Linked DNA regions of Homo sapiens: all the other regions are linked to region 1. The links come from fine-mapping of genetic effects on gene expression. A gene starts in region 1. Each other region holds a variant in brackets. All regions are shown on one strand. Distances are between the middles of the regions. Region 1 holds the start of FHOD1 (formin homology 2 domain containing 1). Region 2 overlaps CTCF (CCCTC-binding factor). Region 3 overlaps CTCF (CCCTC-binding factor). Region 4 overlaps RIPOR1 (RHO family interacting cell polarization regulator 1). Region 5 holds the start of NOL3 (nucleolar protein 3).

What was found.
Region 2: its variant is fine-mapped to the expression of FHOD1 in whole blood (TOPMed, PIP above 0.99).
Region 3: its variant is fine-mapped to the expression of FHOD1 in whole blood (TOPMed, PIP above 0.99).
Region 4: its variant is fine-mapped to the expression of FHOD1 in tibial nerve (GTEx, PIP 0.96). The same link has a PIP of 0.9 or more in whole blood.
Region 5: its variant is fine-mapped to the expression of FHOD1 in lymphoblastoid cells (TwinsUK, PIP 0.95).

The regions. Positions count from the first base shown.
Region 1 is chr16:67,244,556-67,250,375 of GRCh38, forward strand. It overlaps FHOD1 (formin homology 2 domain containing 1), which reads right to left and starts at 2,926. Exons shown (of 22, transcript NM_013241.3): 1 at 2,655-2,926. The coding sequence starts at 2,855. It overlaps SLC9A5 (solute carrier family 9 member A5), which reads left to right and starts at 4,424. Exons shown (of 16, transcript NM_004594.3): 1 at 4,424-4,646. The coding sequence starts at 4,460. RefSeq lists enhancers at 119-168, 279-328, 1,101-1,760, 4,161-4,662, 4,663-5,162 and silencers at 1,864-1,963, 2,864-3,233, 3,876-3,965, 3,986-4,075, 4,376-4,485.
Region 2 is chr16:67,600,366-67,606,185 of GRCh38, forward strand. All of the region lies in intron 2 of CTCF (CCCTC-binding factor), which reads left to right. Among named protein-coding and RNA genes, the nearest start is that of CTCF, 41 kb to the left of the region's middle. The variant CAG/C (reference allele first, on the strand shown) is at 3,149.
Region 3 is chr16:67,567,022-67,572,841 of GRCh38, forward strand. CTCF (CCCTC-binding factor) reads left to right here. Exons shown (of 12, transcript NM_006565.4): 2 at 4,127-4,243. Among named protein-coding and RNA genes, the nearest start is that of CTCF, 7.4 kb to the left of the region's middle. The variant G/C (reference allele first, on the strand shown) is at 3,429.
Region 4 is chr16:67,538,309-67,544,128 of GRCh38, forward strand. RIPOR1 (RHO family interacting cell polarization regulator 1) reads left to right here. Exons shown (of 22, transcript NM_024519.4): 2 at 116-242; 3 at 364-516; 4 at 682-760; 5 at 1,420-1,443; 6 at 1,538-1,591; 7 at 1,745-1,897; 8 at 1,992-2,055; 9 at 2,150-2,193; 10 at 2,271-2,396; 11 at 3,122-3,270; 12 at 3,345-3,474; 13 at 3,559-4,956; 14 at 5,040-5,161. The coding sequence starts at 139. Among named protein-coding and RNA genes, the nearest start is that of RIPOR1, 12 kb to the left of the region's middle. RefSeq lists enhancers at 1-397, 146-215, 4,204-4,253 and a silencer at 4,444-4,493. The variant G/A (reference allele first, on the strand shown) is at 3,009.
Region 5 is chr16:67,169,649-67,175,392 of GRCh38, forward strand. NOL3 (nucleolar protein 3) reads left to right here and starts at 890. Exons shown (of 4, transcript NM_001276309.3): 1 at 890-926; 2 at 4,514-4,816; 3 at 4,973-5,296; 4 at 5,399-5,744. The coding sequence starts at 4,522. The coding sequence ends at 5,406. HSF4 (heat shock transcription factor 4) reads left to right here. Exons shown (of 13, transcript NM_001374675.1): 13 at 1-293. The coding sequence ends at 137. RefSeq lists enhancers at 487-636, 3,857-4,779 and silencers at 847-1,136, 2,777-2,940, 4,677-4,936. The variant C/T (reference allele first, on the strand shown) is at 2,824.

The DNA.
Region 1 (5,820 bases):
CTGAAAGCTCTTTAAAAAGGAAGCCCCCAGGGGAACTCTAGGGGCTAGGCTCGGCCCAATGGGGTGTGTGGGTGGAGTCCCAGGGAGAAAGCAGGCTGGCCTCTGTACATCCCCAGGGAGGGGGGTCATCTGCTGGGATGATCAGGGCCAGTACCCGGGGCCAGTACCCAGAGGAGGACAGAGGCCACTTGGCTGTGTCCTGTCCTCTGCTGGACAACTGTACATAGGACGAAGCAATGAGTAAAGAACCCCTTCCTCTTATTTCTGCCCTACAGCTTGGGACAGGGATGCCCTGGTTTCTGGGCCACCTCTTCCCTCTAGAGGGCCAGCAAGACAGGCCTGAGTCATGTCTGTGACTCTGGGGCACCCACTTATAGGACTACGGGAGGAACCAGCTGTTGACATTTCCTGCAAGGAGGGGCCCTGCTCCCCCTTGCTCAGCTCTCTGATGTCCCTGTCTCTGCCCTATTCTCAGCCCCTCTTCCTCCAGCCTTCTATTCTGGGGCTGTGGTCATAGTTTATATTTGGGTTGAGCACATCACAGTGCATCTGACCATTCCTGGCAGAGTTGCTAGCCCCAGGGAATCCTGGCTTCTGGCATTGTGGTAACCTAGTGTGCCACCTCCATATCCCTGTGGGGGAGGGAAGGCAGTCCTCAGGTACTCCAGGTGGGAGAACATGAAATCGGGGAGACCAGGAAGGACTGCATTGGGGATGAGGAACTTATATTCTTCACCGGAGCTCAGTAGTGTCCTCAGCTAAGGAGCAGGGAACACAGGGCAGAGCACCTGGTAGGGTTGGGTGGGGACACGGGTCCCATGAGAGGGAGATAGAAGGAGTGGTTCTGAGCCTCTTTCTTGCAGCTGACTTCCCAGGCTTGCCCCCAGCTGGGAAGAGGTGTGTCAAGGGGCTGGGCATGGTGGCTCAAGCCTTAATCCCAGCACTTTGGGAGGCTTAGGCAGGCAGATCACCTGAGGTCAGGAGTTTGAGACCAGGCTGGCCAACACGGAGAAACCCTGTCCCTACTAAAAATACAAAAATTACCTGAGTATGGTGGCGCACACCTGTAATCCCAGCTATTTGGAAGGCTGAGGCACGAGAATTGCTAGAACCCGGGAGGTGGAGGTTGCAGTGAGCCAAGATAGCCCCACTGTACTCCAGCCTGGGAGACAGAGCCAGAATCCGTCTTAAAAAAAAAAAAATCGGGGGGGTGGTGTCAGGGCTAGGTCCAATCCTTGAGTTGCAGGATGAGAGGAATACAATATATTCTCTAGTGCCCCACCCTTATTTCAGGATCCGGACTTTAGGAGCCTGGAAGCGGGAACCAGTCTTAGTTCAGCACTCCTGTCTTCCCAGCCCCCATCCTGAATGGGAGGTGGCCTCCAGCTGCACACGCTTCTTCCAGGCACACCTCAATTTGCCCCTCTGAATAGGGCAAGAGAAGCGGGGGCTGAGTCAAAACTGGCGGTGAGCAGTGTCCTGCATCCTTCCAGCCATGGCCTTGAAGCCGGGGTTCTGGCCTGGACACGTGCCACTCTCCAGGCCAATAGTCTCACCACCCCTCCCGCCAGCGCTCAGAGGCGGGGCTGGCCGCAGCGCGAGGAATGCGGGCTGGGGGCCCGGGGCACATTCCAGGGAAGACCCCAGGCCCAAGGGGCAAGTTTACGCAACTCGCCGCCCAGCTGAGGCTGGGAGCAGGGGAGGGCACCCACCCCGACTCTCTCTCCTCTTCTCCAGCACTGGAGGCGGCCGGGCTGGTGGGGAGCTTGTGGAGGTGGTAGTGCGCCTCCCAGAGTCCTGGCCCGGAAACAGCGCGCCGGAAAGGGCTGCCTGCGGGGGGCTGACGGCGGCGAGAGGGAGGGGAGAGGAGGTAGGCTGGCCATCTGGAAAAGGGCCTCTTTCCGCACTGTGCACAAGTCCGCTTCGGGGCGGCAGCAAAGTAGGGCAGGCCGGCTGTTTAAAATTAGTCCGGCCCTCCCTCTCACTTTCAGGCGCGGGCCGATGGGCGGCGAGTGTCCGGGGGTGGGGGCGGGAGCGGTGACTCAAAGGGCTTTTACACCCGTGCAGCCTCCTGCGCTCTGCGGATCCCGGGCCAGACCGCTTCGCGGGGACTCCCCTCACCCCGTGAAGTCTCTCCTCGGCCGGCACTCCCATACTCCCATTGACCTACAGGGTCAAGCCCCAATCCAGCTTCCTGACACCGCAGGAAACCTCTGCCACCTCTAGTAGTCCGCCTCGGGCCCGCCCCTCCTCGTGGTCCCGCCCCCACCTCACCTGAAGCAGGTGGAAGCTGGTCCCTCCCCAGCTCCGCCTCCAGGGTCCGCTACAGCCCAAGCGGCTACCGTCACTCTGACCAGGGAAGCCACCCTGGCAGACCGACGGCGAGTGGAACTCGAGCACCTCCCCAGGTGCGCCTAATTCGAAGGGCAGTCAGAATGGCGGAGCCAAGTTCCTGGCACCCCTCTTCAGTTTCCCCTCAACTTGAGAGGGGACTCCCCCGCAGGCGGGGCAGAGTGGACCCTGGGACCCCAGCCCAAGACTTTTCCGGAGAAGAACACTCGCTCCAGCCTCTTCCCGCGGAGCACCTCCCACCAGTTTTCATGGCGCCCACCCTGAACCCCCGATCGCCCCAACCTTTCTCCGGCCTCCCTCACCTTGAGCGGCGCTCCCAGCAGGCGGTGCACCGCGGGTATCTGCGCGCCCAAGGGCAGCGCCCCGTCCAGGCTGCAGGTGGGGGCCCGGCGCGGCTCCGGAAAGTTGGCACATGCGAAGGGGTCGGTGTCTTCCAGGTACTGCACCCTCACGGTCACCACTGATACCGGCTCTCCGTCCCCGCGGTCTTCCCCGCCCGCCATGGCTCTGCGGCCGGCTCACGCAGCGCGCCTCCGAGTCCCGGCCCCAGTGCAGCTTCTACTCAAAGCACACTGTAGCTCCGCGGTTCGGGCCCGGCCGGACCGGACGCGGCTGGAGGGGCGGGGCCAGACGGAGGCGGGGCCGAGGAAGGGGGTGGAGCCAAGATTAGTCCCCGAGTGCGCGCCAGGAGGTAACCACTGCCGGAGGCGGGGCCGCCGCTAGCCACTCACAGGGCCCAATGGGAATCCCGTTAGTTCACTGGCTAGGAGGGCGGGAAAAACCGAGCTCGCGCCCCACCTTCGAGAACGCGCAGAAGGCGGGGAGGCTTTCTTTGGTCTGGGGATAGTGAGGCTGCGTTCTCTTTGAGGGGTGTTAGGGCAGATGGGGCAGAAGTTTCTTTAGATAGTGGCCGGCCAGGTCTCTCTCAGTTGAGGGACAAGATAGCCCTCATTCCTTCCATTTGAGGGGTGAGTCCCTGTGGTTTCCTCATTTAGGGAAAGCAGTGAGAGGGGGTCCCTTCAATTTGGAGCAAGAAGTGAGAATAAATTCCACCCAGTTTGAAGGAAGAGGTGGGATCAGTTCCCTTTAGTTGTGGGAGGAAGAGGGAAGGATGCCCTTCAGTTTTCTGGGAAAAGATTGGGAGGAGTCAGTTTGAGGGGGCAGATAGAACACGTTCCCCTCAGTTTTGGAGAAAAAGTGGGATGGGTGCCCCTCAGCCTGAATGAAAAGTGGAGACGGTCCTCCTCTGTTTGGGGCGCTATGAGCCGAATGCCCCTCAGATTTGGAAAAAGTTGGGTGCATCTCGCCTAGTTTGAAGGGAATCAGTAGGCTGGGTTTTCCATAGGTTCCTGTCAGCTTCATCAAAGAGATGAGACAGTTCTCTGTAGTGTGACTGAAAGGGAGGGCCAGGTGCCCCTTGGTTTGGGAGATGAAGAACAGCCTCCCTCTTCGCCTGGCACGAGCTGGGCCAGTCTGGGCCTTAGGGTTTCTGGGACGTTGGGGGCAGCGTTGTCCGTCACTGCTTTGGGGAGCGTCCAGTGCGCGTGCGCAGCTCAGGTCCGGGTGGGGGCCGGCAGGGGGTCCTGGGCTTGGCAACGTGGGCGGAGGGCGGCCAAGCACGGTCCCCTGCGTTTTGCACCCGGCCGCGCCTTGGTCCCAGGGGGGTGCTGCTCGCCGCACAGCAGCGCTGGCCGAGGAGGAGCCGTGCCCCTCCCGTCCTGACCGCGCCCCCCGCAGACCCCCGCCCTTCCCGCTGCGGGCTGCCCCAGGGGGGCCGTGGCCGCGCACCGCTCTGGATCTGGTGGGGGCGGTTTTGGGGAGGTTTGGGGGCGCGGACTCGAAGGAGTAGGTTGTGGAACTTGGGGGAGAGCTGCACTGGGGAATTTCCGGAGCTGGGACTGATTTAGGGAGGAAAGAGGAGAGAGTCCCCGACTACGAGAGTCCGAGGCAGGGTCTCGGAGCCTGGACCTGGCTTGGGGGTATCGGAGCCGGGATTGGGGGGAGCGGGCCCCACGTGCCTGTGACGCGGGGGCGCCCGGTAGGTGGCGGCGGCGACGCGGGGCCGGCGGCCGTGCGGTGCCGGGAGGGCGGCTGGGCAGGCGGCAGGATGCTGCGCGCCGCCCTGTCCCTGCTCGCGCTGCCCCTGGCGGGGGCGGCCGAAGAGCCCACCCAGAAGCCAGAGTCCCCGGGCGAGCCTCCCCCAGGCTTAGAGCTCTTCCGCTGGCAGTGGCACGAGGTGGAGGCGCCCTACCTGGTGGCCCTGTGGATCCTGGTGGCCAGTCTGGCCAAAATCGGTGAGTGCGTGTGTGCGTGCGCCAGGCCGACCGCCAGCGGCGGACCCGCCCCCAACACCCCCACCTCCTCGGTCCTCAGATTGGGGCTGGCTTCTTGCACGGTGCTGGGACTTAGGTTTGGATTCCACAAATCCGGGCTCTCGCCCAGTTCCTGCATCGCTTCTTGTGGGTCCCAGGTCCCTGTCTTCTCCCCTGGGAGCTCTGAGGATTTGCCTTTCTGAAGGGCTGTCCCCCGCTCTCCCCAACTCCATCTGTAGGCTCCTTTGCCCTCTCCGCTCCCCTCTTCCCCTTGCAGTAGGCCCTCTTCAGTCTGGTCTCTCCCCCACCAATCCCTAGCCTCCCAGAAACCTCTGTCGCTGGTGAGGATGTGTGGGGACATTGAGGGGAGGGTGTTCTCCCAAGAACACAGGCATCCTGGTTCTGAAAAAGCAGCCTTCCCTGGAGACCATGTCCGAGTGTCCATTCCCTTGGGAAACTACACTGCCACTTTTCCTCCAGCTCTCCCCTGCTCCCCACTTAAAGCTGCTGCCTTCTTGTGCCTGTGTATGGGTACCCCCCCAACCCACGTTCAGGTCCACATTCTTCTCACTTCAGGGTATAAGAAACTTCCGTGTATCGGGGCCTTCCTGTGTGCTGTCTACCCTAGATGCTTTCATACATCCGACCTCTTCAGTCCTGACAGCATTGAAGGCTGTGCTTCAGACTTCTTTTTCCCTGAATAGAGCTGCTTTTCCTTGCATCTGCTCCTTCCTCCTCCCTTCTGAGCAGCCAGTGGTCCCTCCTCCCACCAGAGACCCTCCTCCTTCTCCCTGTTGTGCTGGCTCTGCTGTGGGGGTGACTAATTATAGCTGAGCGTTGCTACTCTCTCCCCATGGATGCTGGCACAGCCTGTACTCCAGTCTCACCAATACAGCCTTCATGGAGGAATCACCCAGAGCCTAGAATTTGCCCCTCTTCTCCCACATGGACACTGCTAGGGGGTGAGGGGGCTGGGCAGGAACAGAACTCTCCACTCTGCTGTGGCAGCCTGAGATTAATAATGGAAAGTGGAACTCAATATGCCTTCCGGGAGCGTGGTTCTGTGATGGGGCTTGGATCTCGGGGCTGGGGTTAATGCATGAAGAGATGAAGATGAAATAGGGTCCCCGAAGGAGAGAAGTGGGAGACCAAAGTA
Region 2 (5,820 bases), 360 kb after region 1:
GTAGCTGGGGTTACAGGCATGCACCACCATGCCTGGCTATATTTTGTAGAGATGGTGTTTCACCATGTTGCCCAAGCTGGTCTCGAACTCCTGGACTCAAGGGATCTGCCCACCTCAGCCTCCCAAAGTCCTGGGATTACAGGTGTGAGCCACCATGCCTAGCCTGGCTAATGTGTGTTTTTTAAAATTTGTTTTTAGAGATGGGGTCTCCCCATGTTGCCTGTGCTGGGCTTGAACTCTTGGGCTCAAGTGATCTACTTCAGCCTCCCAAAGTGCTGGGATTACAGGCTTGAGCCATCACACCTAGTCATAAGGACAGATTTTTTGAGATAGAGCAAAGCCATATATAGAAGTGTATATAAATTCCATATATAGTATGATTTCATATATATACAAAATATATACCTTTAACTGAATAGCTGAGAAAACAGCATCAGAATATTAGGTGATTTTCGTAATCTGGAGGAAAAAAAATGTGTCCTGTAAGTAAATTAAAACCGCTTTGAGTGATATAAACTTCATTTTGGTGGCGATATTGGTCCACAAAAAATATTTGATGAAACCTAGAAGGCATGGGCGACTCAAGCAAGCATAGAGCCAAAAAATATGTAGGAATTAGAGTGAGTGGGTATGTTTTGTACTAAGAGGAACTGAGTATTTGAAAGCAGTAAAGAAAGGAGATGGATTGGAGCTGCTAGTGTCGGGAGAGGCAGCTAGAAGCGCAGTCCCCAGGGAGTGGGGAGAATGACCTGGTCCAGCCTATTGGTTACTTATTGATTCAGAGGAGAGACTCCCATCGTCTGGAAAGAAAGTAAAAGGAGAGATCCACTGCTTGATGGAATGCACTAAGGGGTGTGTGTGTGTGTGTGTGTGTGTGTGTGTGTGTGTGTTTTGTTTTGTTTTTTAAGACAGAGTCTCACTCTGTCACCGTGTGTGTGTGTGTGTGTGTGTGTGTGTGTGTGTGTGTGTGTGTTTTGTTTTGTTTTTTTTTAAGACGGAGTCTCACTCTGTCACCCAGCCTGGAGTGCAGTGGCGTGATCTCGGCTCACTGCAAGCTCCACCTCTCGGGTTCATGCCATTCTCCCACCTCAGCCTTCCCAGTAGCTGGGACTACAGGCGCCTGCCACCACGCCCAGCTAATTTTGTTTTTGTATTTCTAGTCGAGATGGGGTTTCACCATGTTAGCCAGGATGGTCTCGATCTCCTGACCTCGGGGATGCTCTGAGATTCTGAGCAGTGTATTGAGAGGCTGATGGCTTGCTACTTTGTGTCTGATTTTTCTCTATTAAAAATAGAAGCTATTGCTTTAAGACCGAGTAGATGCTGTTGTTTTGTGGACTTTATGCCATGTGTTTTTTTTCAGTGAGACAGTACTCTGTCAGCTCAACTTCTTGGAAGCACAGTTGGTTTCTATTTGTACTCTTTTGTACCACTTCTTTTTCTACCTGGTTTATAATTCTGTGACCTCTTTTAGGTTGGACTCGGTTGTTTACAAGCAATTTTTTTTTTTTTTTTTGAGATGGAGTCTCCCTCTGTCACCCAGGCTGGAGTGCAGTGGCCCAATCTTGGCTCACTGCAGCCTCCGCCTCCAGGGTTCACGCGATTCTCCTGCCTCAGCCTCCCAAATAGCTGGGACTATAGGCACCTGCCACCACAACTGGCTAATTTTCGTATTTTTAGTAGAGATGGGGTTTCACCATGTAGGTCAGGCTGGTCGTGAACTCCTGACCTCAGGTGATCCGCCTGCCTCGGCCTCCCAAAGTGCTGGGATTACAGGCGTGAGCCACTCAGCCCAGCCTGTTTACAAGCAATTTTTAACATTTTAAGTTTTCAAATTCACACCAGAGACCAGATAGAATTTTTTTCCGTTGTCTTCAAGTTGTAGCATCAAATTATATGCTACAAAATCCTGGAGACCCCAAAGATTGTTTTTCCTCTACCAATTTTATTATTGAGGATATTTAAATAGTCTGGGATTATGTAGTGACTCTGGCAGGGTCACCACATTTACATTCACAGCATCTCAATTTTTTGTTCTTTGATACCTTTTCTGAGAATGTCACTCTGAAGTAAATTGGGCTTTTTGTATGTTCCCTAGCTCCAGACATCTGGATTATCATTCCCTTTGCAGGGATACTAACTTTTGGGGCTTTTCAGGGACTGAAAAACTTCTCTTAAAAAGTTTTTTTCTGGGGGCTGGGCACGGTGGTTCATGTCTTTAATCCCAGCACTTTGGGAGGCCGAGGCCGGCAGATTACCTGAGGTCAGGAGTTCAAGACCAGCCTGACCAACATGGAGAAACCCTGTCTCTCCTAAAAATATAAAATTAGCCAGGTGTGGTGGCGCATGCCTGTAATCCCAGCTACTCGGGAGGCTGAGGCAGGAGAATCGCTTGAACCCAGGAGTCGGAGGTTGTGTTCAGCCGAGATTGCGCCATTGCACTCCAGCCTAGGCAACAAGAGTGAAACTCCATCTCCAAAAAAAAAAAAAAAAAAAGAGAAGAAAATCTTAATGGGGAAACAGTAATAGTATAAAGTTAAATTGCAAAATCTAATTCTGTGGGTCAAGGGTGGGACCTGAAGTTCTGTGTTTTTAAGAAGCCAGTGCTGCTGGTCCTCAGACCATACTTTGAATAACAAGTACAAAGTTGTGCTGTCCGGTACGGAAGCCCCTAGCCTCATGTTGCTGTTGAGAATTTAGAGTTTCACTGGTTCAAATTAAGGTATGCTGTAAATGTAAGATATAGCTGGGCACGACGGCACATACCTGTAATCACAGCACTTTGGTAGTCTAAGATGGGACAATAACTTGAGGCTGGGAGTTCAAGACCAGCCTGGGCAACACACCTCTACAAAAAAAAAATTACAAAAAAAGAAAACATTAGGCCGGGCGCAGTGGCTCACACCTGTAATCCCAGCACTTTGGGAGGCTGAGGTGGGGGATCACGAGGTCAGGAGATCGAGACCATCCTGCCTAACATGGTGAAACCCCGTCCCTACTAAAAATACAAAAACAAAATTAGCTGGGAGTGCTGGTGGGTGCCTGTAGTCCCAGCTACTCAGGAGGCTGAGGTGGGAGAATGGCATGAACCCGGGAGGCGGAGCTTGCAGTGAGCCGAGATCAAGTCCCTGCACTCCAGCCTGGGCGA[CAG/C]AGGGAGACTCCCTCTCAAAAAAAAAAGGCTGGGTGTGGTGGCTCACACCTGTAATCCTGGTACTTTGGGAGGCCAAGGCGGGCGGATCAGGAGGTCAGGAGATAAGAGACCATCCTGGCTAACACGGTGAAACCCCGTCTCTACTAAAAGTACAAAAAATTAGCCGGGCGTGGTGACAGGAGCCTGTAGTCCCAGCTACTTGGGAGGCTGAGGCAGGAGAATGGCGTTAACCCAGTAGGTGGAGCTTGCAGTGAGCTGAGATCGCGCCACTGCACTTCAGCCTGGGCAACAGTGCAAGACTCTGTCTCAAAAAAAAAAAAAAAAATTAGAGGCCAGGCACGGTGGTTTATGCCTGTAATCCTAGCAATTTGGGAGGCTGAGGCGGGCAGATGACTTGAGCCCAGGAGTTCGAGACCAGTCTGTGCAACATGGTGAAACCCCACTTTTACTAAAAATACAAAAAAATTAGCCTGGTGCCTGGTATGAACCTGTAGTCCCAGCTACTCGGGAGGCTGAGGTGGGAGAATCACCTGAGCCCAGGAAGTCAAGGCTGCAATGAGCCATGACCATTCTGCTGCACTCCAGCCTGGGCAACAGAGGAAACCCCGTCTCAAAAAAAAAAAAAAAAAGAAAAGAAAAGAAAATTAATTGAGCATGGTGGCATAAACTGTAGTCCTAGCTACTTGGCAGACTGAGGCAGGAGGATCACTGGAGCCCAGGAGTTGGAGGTTACAGTGAGCTGTGATCCTACCACTGCACTCCAGTCTGGGCAACAGAGCAAGTCTGTGTCTCAAGCATAACAATTTTTTTTGTTAGTTTTGTTTTTGTTTTGTTTGTTTGTTTTTGAGACAGAGTCTCGCTCTGTTGCCAGGCTGGAGTGCAGTGGCGCGATCTTGGCTCATTGCAAGCTCCACCTCCCAGGTTCACACCATTCTCCTGCCTCAGCCTCCCAAGTAGCTGGGACTATAGGCATCCGCCACCACGCCCGGCTAATTTTTGTATTTTTAGTAGAGACAGGATTTCGCCATGTTAGCCAGGATGGTCTGTATCTCCTGACCTCATGATCCACCTGCCTTGGCCTCCCAAAGTGTTGGGATTACAGACATGAGCCACCATACCCGGCCAACAATTTTTTAAATTGATGAAACCTTGAAATGATATTTTGGACATACCAGGTTAAGTAAAATAGATTACTAAAATTAATTTCACCAGGGTTTTTTTTTTTTTTGTTTTTTGTTTTTTTTTTTTACTTTTTAATATGAATTTTTTTTACTTAAAATTACATATAATGTGGCTTATGTTTGTGGCTTGCATTATATTTCTATTGAACAGTGCCAGCCTAGAGAATTTATATTCTAAAGATAATCTGTCTGAACAGTACTGAGTATATAAAATTAATTATAGTTAGGATTATGCTTAGTCTTTTACAATCAGAGGTATAAATGGGATTTTTTTTTTTTTTTTTTTTTTTTTTTTGAGACAGTCTCGCTCTGTCTCCCAGGCTGGAGTGCAGTGGCGCAATCTCGGCTCATGGCAAGCTTCGCCTTCCGGGTTCACGCCATTCTCCTGCCTCAGCCTCCCGAGTAGCTGGGACTACAGGCACCCGCCACCACTCCTGGCTAATTTTTTGTATTTTTTAGTAGAGATGGTGTTTCACCGTGTTAGCCAGGATGGTCTCGGTCTCCTGACCTCATGATCCACCCGCCTTCGCCTCCCAAAGTGCTGGGATTACAGGCGTGAGCCACCACGCTTGGCCTAAATGACATCTTATAATAAAAATACTAGCACTTTGCTCATTTTTAATTTATAGGTGAATTATAAAGCATTCTACAAATGTTCTTTGATCCCCACCTTCTGCGGTAACATTTTTTTATATTTGTCCCCACTGTCATGGAACAGCATAGTAAGAAGCCTTTGCATTGGATGTTGTTGTATTTTTCTCTTGGTTGTTGAGAACAAGGGACTAATGAAAGAAAGAAGGTAATGGAAGAATAAACCAAACTGGCAATCCAACAACCTCGGGAGTTTACCTTGAGCCTTGTTTTTTTCCAGGCAGATGGTGGGGTTTGCTGAATCTGTCCAAAAGTATATGTTGCTTCAAGCCCGGCTTTTGCCCTTAAAGAGCTTTCACACCCAACTGGGAAAATAGATCGTTTTGAGAAAATTTTAAGTGCTAAACTGTGTCCTTATTTTATCAGAAACACATTTGGAGCAAAGTAGTGGCCACAAGAACCTCAGAAAGCTTTGTTGTGCCAGGGATGAGCTGGTGTTGAGAGGAGTGGATCAGACGTAAAGTACAGAGTGAAGACAGGGAGATGACAGTAGGAACTGTGTCTGGATGAAAAGACAGCTTGACTGAAGGGGAGAGTGCTAGAGGGCAAGACATAAATCTGAATAGGTTATCATGGGGTCAGGTACGAAGGGGCTTTGTGAGCCAGAAGGGTGGTAAGTGCATCATGTAGTTTTTGCAAAAGTAGAGACACACTTTTTGAGGAAATTAAGTCTTCTTCTTTGTGAAATGAGTGAATCTTTACTTCTCTGCCCAGAAAGCATAAGTGGTTTTCCATTGCCAGTCATCTGAGGTATTTTGTTATTCAAGACCATCCAAACTATGGGGGGCAACCAGCACATCTTTCACCTGTCTTACTACCCTCTCCTCTGTCCTGTGC
Region 3 (5,820 bases), 320 kb after region 1:
TCTAGGTATGGGGTTTTGTCATGTTGCCTAGGCTGGTCTCAAACTCGTGGCCTCAAGCAGTCTGTCTGCCTTGGCCTCCCAAAGTGCTGGGATTAGGTGTGAGCCACCGTGTCCAGCCCATTTTTTTTAAACACCTGTAAACTTTCTGTAGTCTGTCTTCGTATCTTTCCTGCTAGTATCTTTGTGCATTTTCTCAGTGATTTAATATTTGAATGCAAAGTTGTGGCATTGCATATAGACTGCCAAAATACAGTCCAAAGGTGAGGGTTAGGATGGTATTCTTTCACACTTGATCCTTGTTTTTGGTCACTCTTGGAATTTTCAGGGGTAGAAAATTTCATTCCCTTTGAGGTATGCTGGTAATAATAATGGACTCCAGTATGGAAGTGTTGGTTGGACTAAATATGCTAATCACCTATTTGTGTTACTAAAAATTGCCTCTCAACAGAGGAGACTTTAGCTTCATCTAAGTATTAGTGAGTTTTGTGGAGTTTAGCTAATTGTGAGATGGATTTCCTCTTAGAAGATGTACCTCATGTGCCAAATTGCTTGGAAACTTTTTTTTTTTAATACATTTTGATTGAGGCAGTGGCATGATCATAGCTGTTGCCCAGATAGGAGTGCAGTGGCATGATCATAGCTCACTGCAGCCTTGAACTCCTGGGCTCAAGCAGTCTTCCTGCTGCAGCCTCCCAAGTAGCTGGTACTATAGGCGTGTGCCACCATGCCCAGCTGATTCTTTTATTTTTTTGTAGAGACAGGATCCTACTATGTTGCTCAGGCTGGTCTTGAACTCCTGGGCTCAAGCAAGTCTCCCACCTCGGCCTCCCAAAGTGTTGACGTTACAGGTGTGAGCCACCATACTCGGCTTTTTTTTTTTTTTTTTTTTTTTTTGAGACAGGTTGTCACTGTGTTGCCCACACTGCAGTGCAGTGGTGTGATCATGGCTCACTGCAGCCTTGTCCCCCACCTGCCCCAAGCGATCCTCCCACCTCAGCCTTCCAAGTAGCTGGGACCACAGGCACACAACACCATGCCTGGCATATATATGTATACGTGTATATATATATATTTTTTAAGATGGAGTTCACTCTGTCTCCCAGGCTGGAGTGCAGTGGCATGTTCTGGGCTCACTGCAACCCCGGCCTCCCAGGTTCAAGTGATTCTCCTGCTTCAGCCTCGGGAGTAGTTGGGATTACAGGTGCCTGCCACCGTGCCGAGCTAATTTTTGTATTTTTAGTAGAGACGGGGTTTCACCATGTTGGCCAGGCTGGTCTGGAACTCATGACCTCAGGTTATCCACCCACCTCGACCTCCCAAAGTGCTGGGACTACAGACGTGAGCCACCATGCCTGGCCTTTTTTTTGTTGTTGTTCTTCTTCCCTGAGACGAAGTCTTCCTCTGTCACCCAGGCTGGAGTGCAGTGGTGCGATGGTGGCCCACTGCAACCTCCGTCTCCCGGGTTCAACCAGTTCTCCTGCCTCAGCCTCCTGAGAAGCTGGGATTACAGGTGCATACCACCATGCCCAGCTAGTTTTTGTATTTTTAGTAGAGACTGGGTTTCACCACGTTGGCCAGGGTGGTCTCGAACTCTAACCTCATGATCCACCCGCCTGGGCCTCCTAAAGTGCTGGGATTACAGGCGTTAGCCACTGTGCCCGGCCTGCCTGGCTAATTTTTATGTATTTTGTAGAGACGGGGTTTTGCCATGTTGCCCTGACTGGCTTTGAACTCCTAGGCTCGAGCAGTCCTCTGCTGTGGCCTCTCAAAGTGCTGGATTGCTGGTGTGAGCCATCACACCTGGCTATATTATTTGGAAACTCTTTTTTTTTTTGAGACTGAGTCTTGCTCTGTTGCCCAGGCTGGAGTGCAGTGGTGTGATCTTGGCTCACTGAAACCTCTGCTTCCTGGGTTCAAGCGATTCTCCTGCCCCAGCCTCCTGAATAGCTGGGATAACTGGCACACACCACTACGCCTGGTTAATTTTTGTATTTTTTTTAGTAGAGACAAGGTTCCACTATGTTGGTCAGGCTGGTCTTGAACTCCTGACCTTGTGATCCGCCTGCCTTGGCTTCCCAAAGTGCTGGGATTACAGGCGTGAACCACTGTGCCTGGCCTATTTGGAAACACTTAGTTCAAATTTAGCTCTTTATTTCATTTGGGATTTTATTTTATTCTTTTTTTGAGACAGAGTCTCACTCTGTCGCCAGGCTGGAGTGCAGTGGCACGATCTTGGCTCATTGCAGCTCCGCCTCCTGGGTTCAAACGATTCTCCTGCCTCAGCCTCCTGAGTAGCTGGGTTTACAGGCCTGCACCACCATGCCCAGCTAATTTTTGTATTTTTAGTAGAGACGGGGTTTCACTATGTTGGCCAGGATGGTCTCAATCTCTTGACCTCGTGATCCGCCCGCTTTGGCCTCCCAAAGTGCTGGGATTACAGGTGTGAGCCATTGTGCCTGGCCTGGGATTTTCTTTCTTTCTTTCTTTCTTTTTCTTTAGAGGTAGGTTCCACTCTACCTTTGCTTGAAGCTTGACAGTTCATTTTGTAATTTAGGGTGAAAAGATGCCATCTAACAAAGTATTCCGTTATTCGACTAAAAAAACTGTTTCATTGCTATGCTTCTAGGATTTTCAAAGGTCAGTAAAAGCTCCTTTTGCCAGTTATCTTTTTTTTTTTTTAATGAGACGGAGTCTAGCTCTGTCGCCCAGGCTGGAGTGCAGTGGCGCGATCTCGGCTCATTCCAACCTCCGGCTCCTGGGTTCAGGCGATTCTCCTGCCTCAGCCTCCTGAATAGCTGGGATTACAGGCGTGTGCCACCACGCCTGGCTAATTTTTGTATTTTTAGTAGAGATGGGGTTTCGCCATGTTGGTCAGGCTGTTCTCAAACTCCTGACCTCAGGTGATCCACCTGCCTTGGCTTCCCCAGTTATCTTACTAAACTGGAAAGCATAGCCTTTACTTGTGGCATGAACAAACTTAATCAGTAAGACCACTACTTGCTAAAGATACGGAAATAAACTGTTAGAGAGCCATTACTGCAGCCATAAGAATTAATTTTTTTTTTTTTTTTTTGAGACGGAGTCTCGCTGTGTTGCCCAGGCTGGAATGCAGTGGCAGGATCTCGGCTCACTGCAAGCTCCGCCTCCCGGGTTCATGCCATTCTCCTGCCTCAGTCTCCTGAGTAGCTGGGACTACAGGCACCCGCCACCACACCCGGCTAATTTTTTTCTTTGTATTTTTAGTAGAGACGGGGTCTCACGTGTTAGCCAGGATGGTCTTGATCTGCTGACCTCGTGATCTGTCTGCCTCGGCCTCCCAAAGTGCTGGGATTACAGGCGTAAGCCACTGCGCCCAGCCAATAATTAATTTTTTGGTAGTTTGAATATGTGTGCCATTATTTGGTTGCAATATTGCAGTGGAGTGTTTT[G/C]TTTTGTTTTTTTTTTTGAGACGGAGTCTCGCTCTGTCGCCCAGGCTGGAGTGCCGTGGTGCGATCTCGGCTCACTGCATGCTCTGCCTCCCAGGTTTGCACCATTCTCAGCCTCCCAAGTAGCTGGTACTACAGGCGCCTGCCACCACACCCGGCTAATTTTTTGTATTTTTAGTACAGACGGGGTTTCACCATGTTAGCCAGGCTGGTCTCGATCTCCTGACCTCGTGATCTGCCCGCCTTGGCCTCCCAAAGTGCTGGGATTACAGGCATGAGCCACCGCGCCTGGCCTTTTTTTTTTTTTTTTTTTTTGAGACAAGATCTCTCACTCTGTCAAGCAGGCTGGAATGCAGTGGCACAATCTCAGCTCAGTACAGCCTCAAACTCCTGGGTGAGTCTCCCACCCTGGCTTCCGAAAGCGTTAAGATTACTGGTGTGAGCCTGGAGTACTATTTTGCTACTTAGAAACCTTTAGTCCTTTATATATTTAGCAAATGTGTGAAAAAATAAATGAATGTTTTGTTATTGGCTTGATGGTGGACATTTATGGAATGGCTCGGTTAGTGACATGACATGAACAGGTGTTTTGTTTCTTTCCCAATTTTTTCTGTCTTCAGTTTTCCCTCATTTTTTTTCATACTATATGCGTATTTGTATGAATTTAGTGTTTCATAAAATGATTTGTGCTTTTCTTTTAGAATGATTACGGACCTGAAGCCAAAGAACAAGATGCGCTAGTGGACAGATTGCTGACCAGGGGCTTGAGAGCTGGGTTCTATTTTCCCTCCTCAAACTGACTTTGCAGCCACGGAGAGGTAAGTGCTATTTCCATTTTTTCTATCTTAAAAATGGTAGTAATATAACCCTCCTGGAGTTGGAGGATTTGTTGGCTAATTCTTGAATATAGGGGATGCAGGATATCAGGTGATTGAGAGCATACAGGCTTCATAATCAGAGTCCTGGGTTTGAAACTCTTTACGATGATATACTAGCTGGGTAATATGGGGCAAGTTACTTTAACCTGTCTACTCCTGTAGTCCTCACTTGTGAGAGAATAACACCACCAATCTCAGAGACTATTCTCCGTTAATGAGAATGTGTTTTGTAAAGCTTTAAGTACTATTCTGAACATGTACATAGAAAGATCCCAGGAAATTGTGGCTGCTTTTCTGTAGAAACCCTTGGAATGTGTATTTTGACTATTGGCAAATGAACTGAAAAGAAAGTCCATGACCTGTGGCTACTTGTAATTTTGATAAGAAACAGATGGAATCCTGTTCTTGGGGAACCTGGTATCCTGGATAAAAATTGTCTTAATTTGAGTTAGCCTAGCTCATTGCCCATTTTGCGTCAGAGTGTGACAGTGATTATCATTTTAATTTAGCCTGTAATTTTTGCTATAAAATATAATGGACATTATATGGAACTTGGAACAGACCTTCTATAAATATTGGAATCTACTATGCTTTGGGATCTCATAAACAACAAAGTGGGATTCTGGTTGTAAAAATTATCTCTTCTCACGGTACCGGAAAGCACATTTTTTTCAGACCCTAGAAAAATGTGAAAATAATTTAATCGTACATGTGTAATGGCAAAAAGGAATGTAGAAGTGGAAATTACAAATGCCAGGATTAGATAAGCTTATGTGAATGAATCATCTAAATGACTACTAAGATTTTTCTTACAAGCTCTGCCTGGAGCAAATAAAGAGAAGGGAATAGGAATGAAAGTTCTGTTATTCTTCAAACCTTTATTTTCCAAATGGGCAACTTGTTATCCTGCTAGATGGGAAGGAGAAGGTCTGTGGTAGTATTCTGTCACTCCAAAAATAACTTACGCCCTGCAGGTTCTTTTAGGAGTGTTGACACAGAGTGCATACCAAAAGTTGCTGATTTAAAAACTATTGAGAAATCGAACCTTTAAGAGTTTAGGGAATGGGTTTATAGGAACACGTTAATCACTTTCAAGTGTTATGACTAGCTTAATTGCTTAGATCCCTGTTTCTCAAACTGGGATATGAATACCCTTAGGGAATCAGGTGGTATGATTTCGGGGTACTTGGAGTCACAAGAAAGATAAACATGACCCATCTTCCTAGAACTTCAGTTATAGTCATAGAGGAGGTGGTGAGTTAAGTAATTTAACTGGTCAGTGATTAAATATTAAATATTGGCCAGGCACGGTAGCTCACACCCAGTACATTGGAAGGCCAAGGCCTCCAAAATCCCAGTAATCCTAGTACTTTGGGAGGCCAAGGCAGGTAGATCACTTGAGGTCAGGAGTTCCAGACCAGCCTGGCCAACATGGTAAAACCCCATCTCTACTAAAAATATAAAAACTAGCCGAGTGTGGTGGTGGGTGCCTGTAATCCCAGCTACTTGGGAGGCTG
Region 4 (5,820 bases), 290 kb after region 1:
GCTGGGGCAGCTGTGCCTAGCGACAGGAAAGACCTGCGCCAGCCCTGGATCCCGCTGCGTGGGAGAGGGCTTCGGGGATCCGACTGGTACTGGACACCCCCCCGATCACCCGCAGGGAGCCCCGCGCGGACTCACTCTATGATGTCCCTGTCGGTGCGGCCGCAGCGCCGTCTGCTCAGCGCCCGGGTCAATAGGAGCCAGTCCTTCGCAGGCGTCCTCGGCAGCCACGAGCGGGGGCCCAGGTACGCGGCCGCGCAGGGTTGGTGGGGTCAAAGGGCGTCAGATGGGGCTGGGTCTGGGGGTGCGTAGTGAGAGTCTGGGGGACTCCTGCTCTCCTCTTTCTGAGGACAGCCTCTCCTTCAGGAGTTTCCCGGTCTTCAGCCCGCCGGGGCCCCCACGGAAGCCCCCCGCGCTCTCCCGAGTGTCCAGGATGTTTTCCGTGGCTCACCCAGCCGCCAAGGTGCCGCAGCCCGAGCGGCTGGACCTGGTGTACACGGCGCTGAAGCGGGGCCTGACGTGAGCAGCTCCTCTGTTCCCAGCCCTGTCCCGGGATCCCTCCCCAAGCCCGCATCCTGCTAGCAGGAACCTTCTCCAGCCCCATGCCCTCTCCCTGCTGTCTGCACCCTGGGCAGCATGAGGCTGGAGAGCCGAGTTCATTCTTGTGGTCGCCCCTTTCCTCAGGGCCTACTTGGAAGTGCACCAGCAGGAGCAAGAGAAACTCCAGGGGCAGATAAGGGAGTCCAAGAGGAATTCCCGCTTGGTGAGTGGCGGGAGGTACGGATGCCCTTTGCCTCTTTGGTGTGGAGGGCTGGGCAAGGGCAGCCCTGGGTGATATCTGGGCTATTTTCTGAAGTGATCTGGTTCAGGTGTGAGTAGAAAAGGGGATATCAGGAAAGGCTGAGGGGCTTTTCTATCCCCAAACTTTGCTGTGCATACTTTCTGCTTGGGACTCAGTACCTGCTCCAGGAGCTTCCAGTGGGGTAGGTGGGACCCCTACAGACATGGACAGCAGGAGATTCTGCTGCAGTGGTACTGAGCAGTGGTACTGCTGCATGGTGCTTCTTGGGAAGAGGTTAGGGCTTCCTGGAGGAGGGAACACTTCTGCCGGGGCTTGATGGGAGTTCCCCTGCAGAGGGAACCTTGCACAAGGAAGCAGAGAGCTCTCCCCAGGCGGCTGCAGGAAAAGGAATCCCAGGGAAGAGGTGGAAGGAGGGGTCCTGGAGGGGGCTGAAGGGACCAGATCTGTGCTACCAGCATCCACCAAGGGCTAGACCAGCAGGAAGGGGCGTCAGTTGCTACTGTGACAGGAGTGCTTGTGGACTGTGGTGTGAGAAAGGGGAGCTGTGACGAGTCTGAGTGCCTCTGCTGGAGTCCTCCTCATCCCTCCTAAATATTTGCCCCTTCTCCCCACCCCTGCAGGGCTTCCTGTATGATCTGGACAAGGTGAGTATGCATGGAATGGTACTGGAAGGGGTTGGCTCACAGGGAGGGTAAGGACCCTGGGCCTCAGGCCCCTCCTGACCCACCTCTCCCCCAGCAAGTCAAGTCCATTGAACGCTTCCTGCGACGACTGGAGTTCCATGCCAGCAAGGTACGAGTGCAGCATGTGTGCAGAGTGGGGTGGGGGGTTGGATATCATAGGGAGAAGAGGGGTGGTGCCAGGCCCTGGGTGAGCAACCTTAGAGGTGAGTAACCCCAGAGGTGAGTCTCAGTCCCCCTACTGTCACCCCACTCACCTTCCCAGATCGATGAGCTGTATGAGGCATACTGTGTCCAGCGGCGTCTCCGGGATGGTGCCTACAACATGGTCCGTGCCTACACCACTGGGTCCCCGGGAAGCCGAGAGGCCCGGGACAGCCTGGCAGAGGCCACTCGGGGGCATCGCGAGTACACGGAGGTGAGGGATGGGGGCCCATGAGGCAGAGGCACAGGGTGTGGCAGGGCTAGTGGCTGGCCCTTGACCCCCTCCTGTCCCTGCCCCTCCCTCCCAGAGCATGTGTCTGCTGGAGAGCGAGCTGGAGGCACAGCTGGGCGAGTTTCATCTCCGAATGAAAGGTACTGAGTTGTGGGGGCAGGTGGGGGGCTGGAGGGAGTATGCTGAAGAACCCCAATATGGCTCACCGACTTCTCCCCTTCTCCTCCAACTCAGGGCTGGCTGGCTTCGCCAGGCTGTGTGTAGGCGATCAGTATGAGGTATGAGAATGTGCAGGGAAGGGCTGGGTCGGTAGGGTCCCAACACCTAGGCTGCCTCATCCTACCTGTTCCCCCAGATCTGCATGAAATATGGGCGTCAGCGCTGGAAACTACGGGGCCGAATTGAGGGTAGTGGAAAGCAGGTGTGGGACAGTGAAGAAACCATCTTTCTCCCTCTACTCACGGAATTTCTGTCTATTAAGGTGATGTCTCTGCCCAGGACGGCAGGCCACCATGGCCCTGTGAACCCCTTGTGACCCCCATTACCCTGAGTCCCTTACTCCTGTGATCCCCTCATAGCTCCATAGCCCTGTGAAGATATGATTCCATGACCTTCATGATCTCTGTGGCCCTGAGAGGAACAATCTTTGTGACTCTTAGGACATCATGGCTTCCTGACCCTGTGACCTCCTCATGATCTTCTGACCCTGTGAATATTTGACCTCCTAAGCTCCCATGAGGCTGTGACCTCTATGACCTCAGTGACCCTACCATGCAGACCTCTGTGATTCCCATGCTCCCAGGCTGCTTCAAGCATCCATGGCTCCATGAGCATGCATGTGTCTGTCTATCTATCTAGGAGTTGGCGGGTCTCACTCTGTCACCCAGGTTGGAGTGCAGCAGTGCAATCATACCTCACTGCAGTCTCAAACTCCTGGGCTCAACCCATCCTCCCACTTCAGCCTCCCAAGTAGCTGGGACTACAGGTGCACCACCATGCCTGGCTAAAAATTTTTTTTTTTTTTTTTTTTGAGACAGAGTCTTGCCATGTTGCCCAAGCTGGTCTTGAACTCCTGGCCTTAAGTGATCCTCCT[G/A]CCTCAGCCTCCCATGACCATTTTATAAGTTCTATGCAAATTCAGACCTCAGATTTCCCATGATCTCATAGCCCCTGCACCCTTGTGACCCTACCATGCACTCTTGGCTACAGGTGACAGAACTGAAGGGCCTGGCCAACCATGTGGTTGTGGGCAGTGTCTCCTGTGAGACCAAGGACCTGTTTGCCGCCCTGCCCCAGGTTGTGGCTGTGGATATCAATGACCTTGGTACCATCAAGCTCAGCCTGGAAGTCACATGGAGGTTGGTGGGGCTGAGAGGCTTGGAGGAGGGCCAGGAGGGCTGTGGCACCTGCCAACAGCCTCTTCCCTTCCCAGCCCCTTCGACAAGGATGACCAGCCCTCAGCTGCTTCTTCTGTCAACAAGGCCTCCACAGTCACCAAGCGCTTCTCCACCTATAGCCAGAGCCCACCGGACACACCCTCACTTCGGGAACAGGCTTTCTATGTGAGTCATAGCCCAGGTCCAGGCCTCACCATCCCCCAGAGGCTCCCTGGGGGTGGTTCTGAAATGCCCTCTCCTCTTTCTCAGAACATGCTGCGACGGCAGGAGGAGCTGGAGAATGGGACAGCATGGTCCCTGTCATCTGAATCTTCAGACGACTCATCCAGCCCACAGCTCTCAGGCACTGCCCGCCACTCACCAGCCCCTAGGCCCCTGGTGCAGCAGCCCGAGCCCCTTCCCATCCAAGTTGCCTTCCGCAGGCCTGAGACCCCCAGCTCTGGGCCCTTGGATGAGGAGGGGGCCGTGGCCCCAGTCCTGGCAAATGGGCATGCACCCTACAGTCGGACTCTGAGCCACATCAGTGAGGCTAGTGTAGATGCTGCCTTGGCTGAGGCTTCAGTGGAGGCCGTTGGCCCAGAAAGCCTAGCCTGGGGACCTAGCCCACCTACACACCCAGCTCCCACCCATGGAGAGCACCCCAGTCCTGTTCCTCCTGCCCTGGACCCTGGCCACTCTGCCACAAGCTCTACCCTCGGTACAACAGGCTCTGTCCCCACATCTACAGACCCTGCCCCATCTGCACACCTAGACTCAGTTCATAAGTCCACAGACTCTGGCCCTTCAGAACTGCCAGGCCCCACTCACACCACTACAGGCTCTACCTATAGTGCCATTACCACTACCCACAGTGCTCCAAGCCCCCTCACTCACACTACTACAGGCTCCACCCACAAGCCCATAATCTCTACCCTTACTACTACAGGCCCTACCCTCAATATCATAGGCCCAGTCCAGACTACCACAAGCCCCACCCACACTATGCCAAGCCCTACCCATACCACAGCAAGCCCCACTCATACTTCCACAAGCCCCACCCATACCCCCACAAGTCCCACCCACAAAACCAGTATGTCACCTCCCACCACTACAAGTCCTACCCCCAGTGGTATGGGCCTAGTCCAGACTGCCACAAGTCCCACCCATCCTACCACAAGCCCCACCCATCCCACCACAAGCCCCATCCTTATAAATGTAAGCCCTTCCACTTCTCTAGAACTTGCTACCCTCTCCAGCCCCTCCAAACACTCAGACCCCACCCTCCCAGGCACTGACTCCCTTCCCTGTAGTCCCCCAGTCTCCAATTCCTACACTCAGGCAGACCCTATGGCCCCCAGAACTCCCCACCCAAGTCCTGCCCATTCCAGTAGGAAACCCCTCACAAGCCCTGCCCCAGATCCCTCAGAGTCTACGGTTCAGAGTCTAAGCCCCACTCCCTCACCCCCAACCCCTGCACCCCAGCATTCAGACCTTTGCCTGGCCATGGCTGTCCAGACCCCAGTCCCAACGGCAGCCGGAGGGTCTGGGGACAGGAGCCTGGAGGAGGCACTGGGGGCCCTAATGGCTGCCCTGGATGACTACCGTGGCCAGTTTCCTGAGCTGCAGGGCCTGGAGCAGGAGGTGACCCGCCTAGAAAGTCTGCTCATGGTGAGGAGGGCTGGGCTGGGCTAGGGCAACCAGGGAGGGCAGCCAGGGGGCGGCAGCCGCTCTGATGCCCTTCACAACCTCAGCAGAGACAAGGTCTGACTCGCAGCCGGGCCTCCAGTCTCAGCATCACTGTGGAGCATGCCTTGGAGAGCTTCAGCTTCCTCAATGAAGACGAAGATGAAGACAATGATGTTCCTGGGGACAGGTGAGGGGGCTAGGCAAGATGGGTGTGAGGCTAGGTGAGAGGGAAAAGGTGAGGCAGGACCAGGGGAAGGTGGAACAGGTGAATTGGGAGAAAGTCAAAGGACAGGACAGGTGAGGCAGGGCCAGGTGGAGCATGTGAGGACTGAGTTGCTGGCAGGTGCACCTGTGTCCACCCCTCCCATGTCCTTCATGCCCATGTCTCCAACCCTACGTGTGTCCCCAGTGCTTCTGACCGCCCTCTTCATCTCTGCAATGTCTGCCTCCCCTGCCGGTCCCCATCAGCTTGGGTGCCTCCAGCCCCTCCTCTTCCCCTTGGCCTCACCTTGGACCTGCCCTTTAAGGAGCTCTCTCAGTGTCTCGCCGTGCACCCTGGGACCCCAGCACTGCCCCACTCCTTCTCAACCCCGACTCTCCCAGAGGCCCTGGCCCCTCAACTGTCAGTCCTGGAGTGGCCTTTGCTGGTTCCCAGTTGAGAGTTGTGCCAGGTCCCTCCTTCCTCTGCTGCTGCCCAGGCTACAGCCCCATGCCCTGCACCCTTTGCAGTCCACTTGTCATAAACCATCCCGCCTGCAGCCTACTCCTACCCATGCCATCCCCAGTGGTCCCAGCTGGAGGTAGCATGGCGCAGACTGACTCCAGAGATCCCTACTACCACCTGCT
Region 5 (5,744 bases), 75 kb before region 1:
GGGCCCCACTCCTGCTGGATGTCCAGGCGGCCTTGGGAGGCCCAGCCCTGGGCCTGCCTGGGGCTTTAACCATTTATAGCACTCCTGAGAGCCGGACTGCCTCCTACTTGGGCCCGGAAGCCAGTCCCTCCCCCTAAGACCCCGCGCCTCTGAAGGGGCTTGGAACCAGTCCGCCGCTGCACATCCTTCTTGGCTTCCTGGCGCCCCCTATCGGGGGTGAGCGAAGCCCCCACTACTAAATGGCCTCTCTCCACTACCCCGACTATCCCTGCACATAAACTCCGTTTTTTTTTTTTCTGTTTCTGGTCTCTTTTCTCTATCGACCAGGGAGCACAGGAGTTATGGGTGGGGGGTGATTTTGCATTTGTAGAAGCGTCCAGATACTAGGTTTTTAATAGAGGAACCCCAGGAGGGTGGAGGTGCTTGGGGATCCGGTGCCTAGCTCCCTTGCTTAGGCCCGGGTCCAGGGCTGGCGCGGGGCCGCTGCAATCTCTGGGAAGCGGGGGCTTCTGGGTCGCGCTCAGCTCTGCAATGCATGCGTTCTGTGATCCTGGTGAGTTGGTATCCTTCTCTGAACTTCCTCTGTGACAGGCAGAGAAGAGGGGTCGATGACAAGATAGATGGAAAGCACCTGGAAATTGGCAGGCCCTGAGTGGGCGCTGGACGTGTGGGGCCGCGGGCCGAACTGCCCCCTCCTGGCCTCATCTCCTGGTGCGCCCCGGGTGGGGAGGGAAAGCTGACTACATGCACGTCCCCAGCCAGCGCGCGGCCTCCGCGGTGTGGCTCCTAGTGCCCGGGGAAGAACCCTCACCCTCCCTATTCCCAGCAGCCCTGGCCGCCCCGCCCCCGCCGCAGCTGCTGCACCCACCCCCACCCTGCCCGGCCCTTTCTGCACCGTCATCTCCTGCCCCGCCGAGGCTTGACCCGTGAGTGGGGACGCCCAAAACGGGCCAGACCGGGAGCCCCACTCCCGGCTGTGGGAGGGAAGGGAAACCGAGATTGGGCAGAATCAGCGCCCCACCACCCGCTGCGGCGCTCGGGGGTCGGGGGGGCGGGGTGGGTAGGACTGTGGGCCCCGCCCTGCCGCAGGACTCTCAAGCTCTGGGACTGGGTGGAGGGAGGTAAGGGGCGGGGGGGGAAAATCCGTGCAGTCGCACATGCGCAAAGGCTCTTCACTGTCCCAAGACCCTGGCTTCCTGGCCAAAGAGCCCGCGCAGCGAGGTGGGGTTGGGGGCTGGGACCCAGCTCCGTGCCCCGCCACCTGGCTCTCTGGGAAGAATCGGACCTGTCACCCTCGAAGGACTGGCCGCTAAATAACTTCGGTATTGAGAGCTGTGTGAGCCTCAAAGGGAGGGCCCAGACCAGCTGGAGTCTCTACCCCCAGACAGGATAAAGGGCAGGACTTGGGGTCATAGGAGGAGGCGGCTAACATGAAAACAACTTAGGTTGGAGAGAAGGAGGGGCCAATCCAATCTGCACCCTCCCTGTGTCTGTCCCGAGTAGGTGCTGTCCCCCTCTCCCTTCCTTTGCCCACCGATTGGAGGGACACTCTGGAAAACTCAGTTGAAGAAAGCGGAGAGTCTGCGTGTACACAGTGCAATGATGTCAGTTAATGCACTAGTGAGGGCATGTGTTGTTCACGGTACACAGAAGAAGGAACCACCAGCCCTTGGGACACTTAGGCATTGGTGTAGACAAGGGAACATTTGAGTCCTGGACGATGGATAGGTCCACGGAGCGGAGGGAGGAGAAAAGGATTCCAGTCTTAGCGATCAGCATCAGCAAAGGCTCCGAGGTGCCAGAGGCATAGTGAGTTCTCCGATCCCTGGCTGGTGGAGGGAAGCTGGGAAGGGCCTGGCTGTCCAGGGTGGTGGGAGGAGGCTAGAGTAGCCAGACCAGATATTTTGGGTTGTCTCTGATGGGCAGTGGGGTGTGGGGGGGAGGTAGATAGGTATTTAGGATGGAATTCTGCTAGACAGGAAAATATAGTTCAGTTCCTCATAGTTCAGGCTGGAGCAAGTAAGATTCCAGTTTTACCACTGAATCTCTGAGCCTGTCTCCTCATCTGTAAAATGGGAACAGCAATCCTAGCCCAGAGGGTTGTCAAAGTCACTGTGCTATCGGGCCTGGCAGAATGGGAGTGAGAGGGGCTCAGAGGGACTGTTACAGGACATGAGGTGACGATGGTGGGGTGGCAAGGCAGGAGCTGATGGAGACTCACTGAGAAGTGGAGAAGCAAGATTCATCACATACGGGACATAAAGGGAGATGGAGGGGCAGGGGGTAGTCCTGGTCTCGGCCTGGTGGGGAAGGGCTTCAATGGGAGGAAGCCAGGGTGTGAAGTGACGGGGGAGGTATAGTGTGACACCAGAGGGTACTGAGAAAGACCTGGGAGGCAGGATGGCGGCTAGGACTAAATCCTCTCTCCCAGAGAAGGCCGAGCCTCCTAGAGCCAGAGAAGGAGGCAGAGGAGGGACAGCAAAGGGAAGAAGAGATGGGAGGATGCCGTGTGAACAAAGCCAAGGCGGGGAGGAGAAGAAGTTATTATCAGGGTGGGGGTGGGCTGAGGGCATGGTTCAAGGCCTGATGTCTTTGCCTCCTAATGCCGGGGGTCTTGCTGGCTGGGTCAGGCCACTCACAGGAATGGGCCATAATCCTTGGTTGACAATAAATGGACAAAGCAGCTGGGTGCGGTGGCTCATGCCTGTAATCCCAACACTTTGGGAGGCCAAGGTGGGTGGATCACGAGGTCAGGAGTTCGAGACCAGCCTAGCCAACATAGTGAAACCCCGTCTCAACTAAAAACACAAAAAATTAGCTGAG[C/T]GTGGTGCGGGCACCTGTAATCTCAGCTACTCGGGAGGCTGAGGCAGAAGAATCGCTTGAACTCAGGAGGCAGAGGTTGCAGTGATGAGAGAATGTGCCACTGCACTCCAGCCTGGGCAACAGAGTGAGACTCTGTCAAAAAAAAAAAAAAAAAATGGATAAAGCAGATTGACTCTCCCTAATAGCCGCTGTTGGTAGAGATAGTCTCTCAAGAGCCAGGCATGGTGGTTCACATGGTGGTTCACAAAGTGCTGGTAATCCCAGCACTTTGGAAGGCTGAGATGGGAGGATTGCTTGAGGCCAGCAGTTCGAGACCAGCCTGATCAATATAGCAAGACCAGGACAGGCGCGGTGGCTCACGCCTGTAATCCCAGCACTTTGGGAGGCCAAGGCAGGTGGATCACGAGGTCAGGAGTTCAAGACCAGCCTGGCCAACATAGTGAAACCCCGTCTCCACTAAAATAAATAAATACAAAAAATATATATAGCAAGACCCCACCTCTAAAAAAAAAAAAAAAAAAAAAGGCTGGGCACGAGAATCACTTGAGCCTGGGAGGCGGAGGTTGCAGTGAGCCAAGATTGCGCCACTGCACTCCAGCTTGGGCAACAGCGAGACTCCATCTCAAAAAAAAAAAAAAAAAAGTCTCTCAAAATAGTGCGATCCATGGAGGAAAATCAGTCCAAGTTCGGCAAGTATTTGTCGGTATCCTGTATGAGCTAGGCCTTGGGTACTTCAAGATCAAACAACAAATGTCTGTAGGTAATTCCCAGGTCAGCAGGGAGCCAGGTGGGTCAGCAGAGAGACAGTCACATTAGGAGTTAGGGCTTCAGTAGGGAGACAGGTGGGTCTCAGGTGATGTCAAGAGATCTTGGTCAGAGCTAGGCCTGAAGAAGATTCTGGTATCTCTGCTCAGGAATCAGGGGACCAGGAAGGGCCAGGAGACTACATTGGGGTTGCACTATGGTGGTGGTGTTGGTGGGAGGGTGTAGAGGCGGGGCTTGTCCTGGAAAGTTGGATATCAGGGTCAAGGTAAGGGGAGAGGGGCAGGGAGGCTCTCAGCACTTTGTGCTCTGGGTTCAGAGGGGACTGGAGGATAGAGTATGGAAGCAGGGAGCTCTGATCCTGGGTTCTGCAGGGCCAAAGCAGGAGGCAGAAGGCTGGACTTAGTAAGTGGTGAGGATGGTGAGAGAAATATTCAGCAGTCAGACTGGAAAGGACTTGTCTGCAAGCTGGGTGTGGAGTATCAGCATCAATCCTAGGTTTTTCTGCCTGGTTAGGTGGGGAAGCAGATTTGAGAGAAAGACCTTAGTTTGGATAAACGGGGTCTGAACTCGCCTCGGATTTGCCGGGGGTGGAGCTCAGGACGTCCTGGTTGGGGAGGGCATTCAGAGAGTAGATGCCAGTCCTGGGAAAGGCAGGGGAGGAGAGGAGAGCCACGGCTGACGCTTGGGGACAGAAGGAGGAGCCTGAGGAGGAGACAGGACAGAGCGTCTGGAGAGGCAGGAGGACACCGAGTTCCCCGTGTTGGCCTCCAGGTCCTGTGCTTGCGGAGCCGTCCGGCGGCTGGGATCGAGGTGAACTTAAACCCCAGCCTGGGTGTTCACTGGGGGCATTGAGGGAGTGGTCAGAGGCGGCGAGGGCAGCGGGGAGGGCAACCCCCCATTACTTCTCTCCCCTTTCCCCATGCAGCCCCGACAATGGGCAACGCGCAGGAGCGGCCGTCAGAGACTATCGACCGCGAGCGGAAACGCCTGGTCGAGACGCTGCAGGCGGACTCGGGACTGCTGTTGGACGCGCTGCTGGCGCGGGGCGTGCTCACCGGGCCAGAGTACGAGGCATTGGATGCACTGCCTGATGCCGAGCGCAGGGTGCGCCGCCTACTGCTGCTGGTGCAGGGCAAGGGCGAGGCCGCCTGCCAGGAGCTGCTACGCTGTGCCCAGCGTACCGCGGGCGCGCCGGACCCCGCTTGGGACTGGCAGCACGTGGGTCCGGGTGAGCGCGCGGGGCGGGGCCTAGGGCAGAGCAGGGACGGGGCTGGGGCAGACAAAAGGCCCGGGGAGGGCAGGGTTGTCGTCTCCGCTAGAAGTAGGCGAGTGTGAAACCGCACAGGGGTAAATTGAGCCTCAGTCACTCCCACTTCCGCCCCAGGCTACCGGGACCGCAGCTATGACCCTCCATGCCCAGGCCACTGGACGCCGGAGGCACCCGGCTCGGGGACCACATGCCCCGGGTTGCCCAGAGCTTCAGACCCTGACGAGGCCGGGGGCCCTGAGGGCTCCGAGGCGGTGCAATCCGGGACCCCGGAGGAGCCAGAGCCAGAGCTGGAAGCTGAGGCCTCTAAAGAGGCTGAACCGGAGCCGGAGCCAGAGCCAGAGCTGGAACCCGAGGCTGAAGCAGAACCAGAGCCGGAACTGGAGCCAGAACCGGACCCAGAGCCCGAGCCCGACTTCGAGGAAAGGGACGAGTCCGAAGGTGTGAGTCCGCCCAAACCCTGAGCCGGCTTGGCGGGAGGGCATGGCCTGGGAAGCGGATGCCGGACCCCACCTCTTTGACCACTGTTCCCGTCATCTCTAGATTCCTGAAGGCCAGAGCTCTGACAGGCGGTGCCCCGCCCATGCTGGATAGGACCTGGGATGCTGCTGGAGCTGAATCGGATGCCACCAAGGCTCGGTCCAGCCCAGTACCGCTGGAAGTGAATAAACTCCGGAGGGTCGGACGGGACCTGGGCTCTCTCCACGATTCTGGCTGTTTGCCCAGGAACTTAGGGTGGGTACCTCTGAGTCCCAGGGACCTGGGCAGGCCCAAGCCCACCACGAGCATCATCCAGTCCTCAGCCCTAATCTGCCCTTAGGAGTCCAGGCTGCACCCTGGAGATCCCAAACCTAGCCCCCTAGTGGGACAAGGACCTGACCCTCCTGCC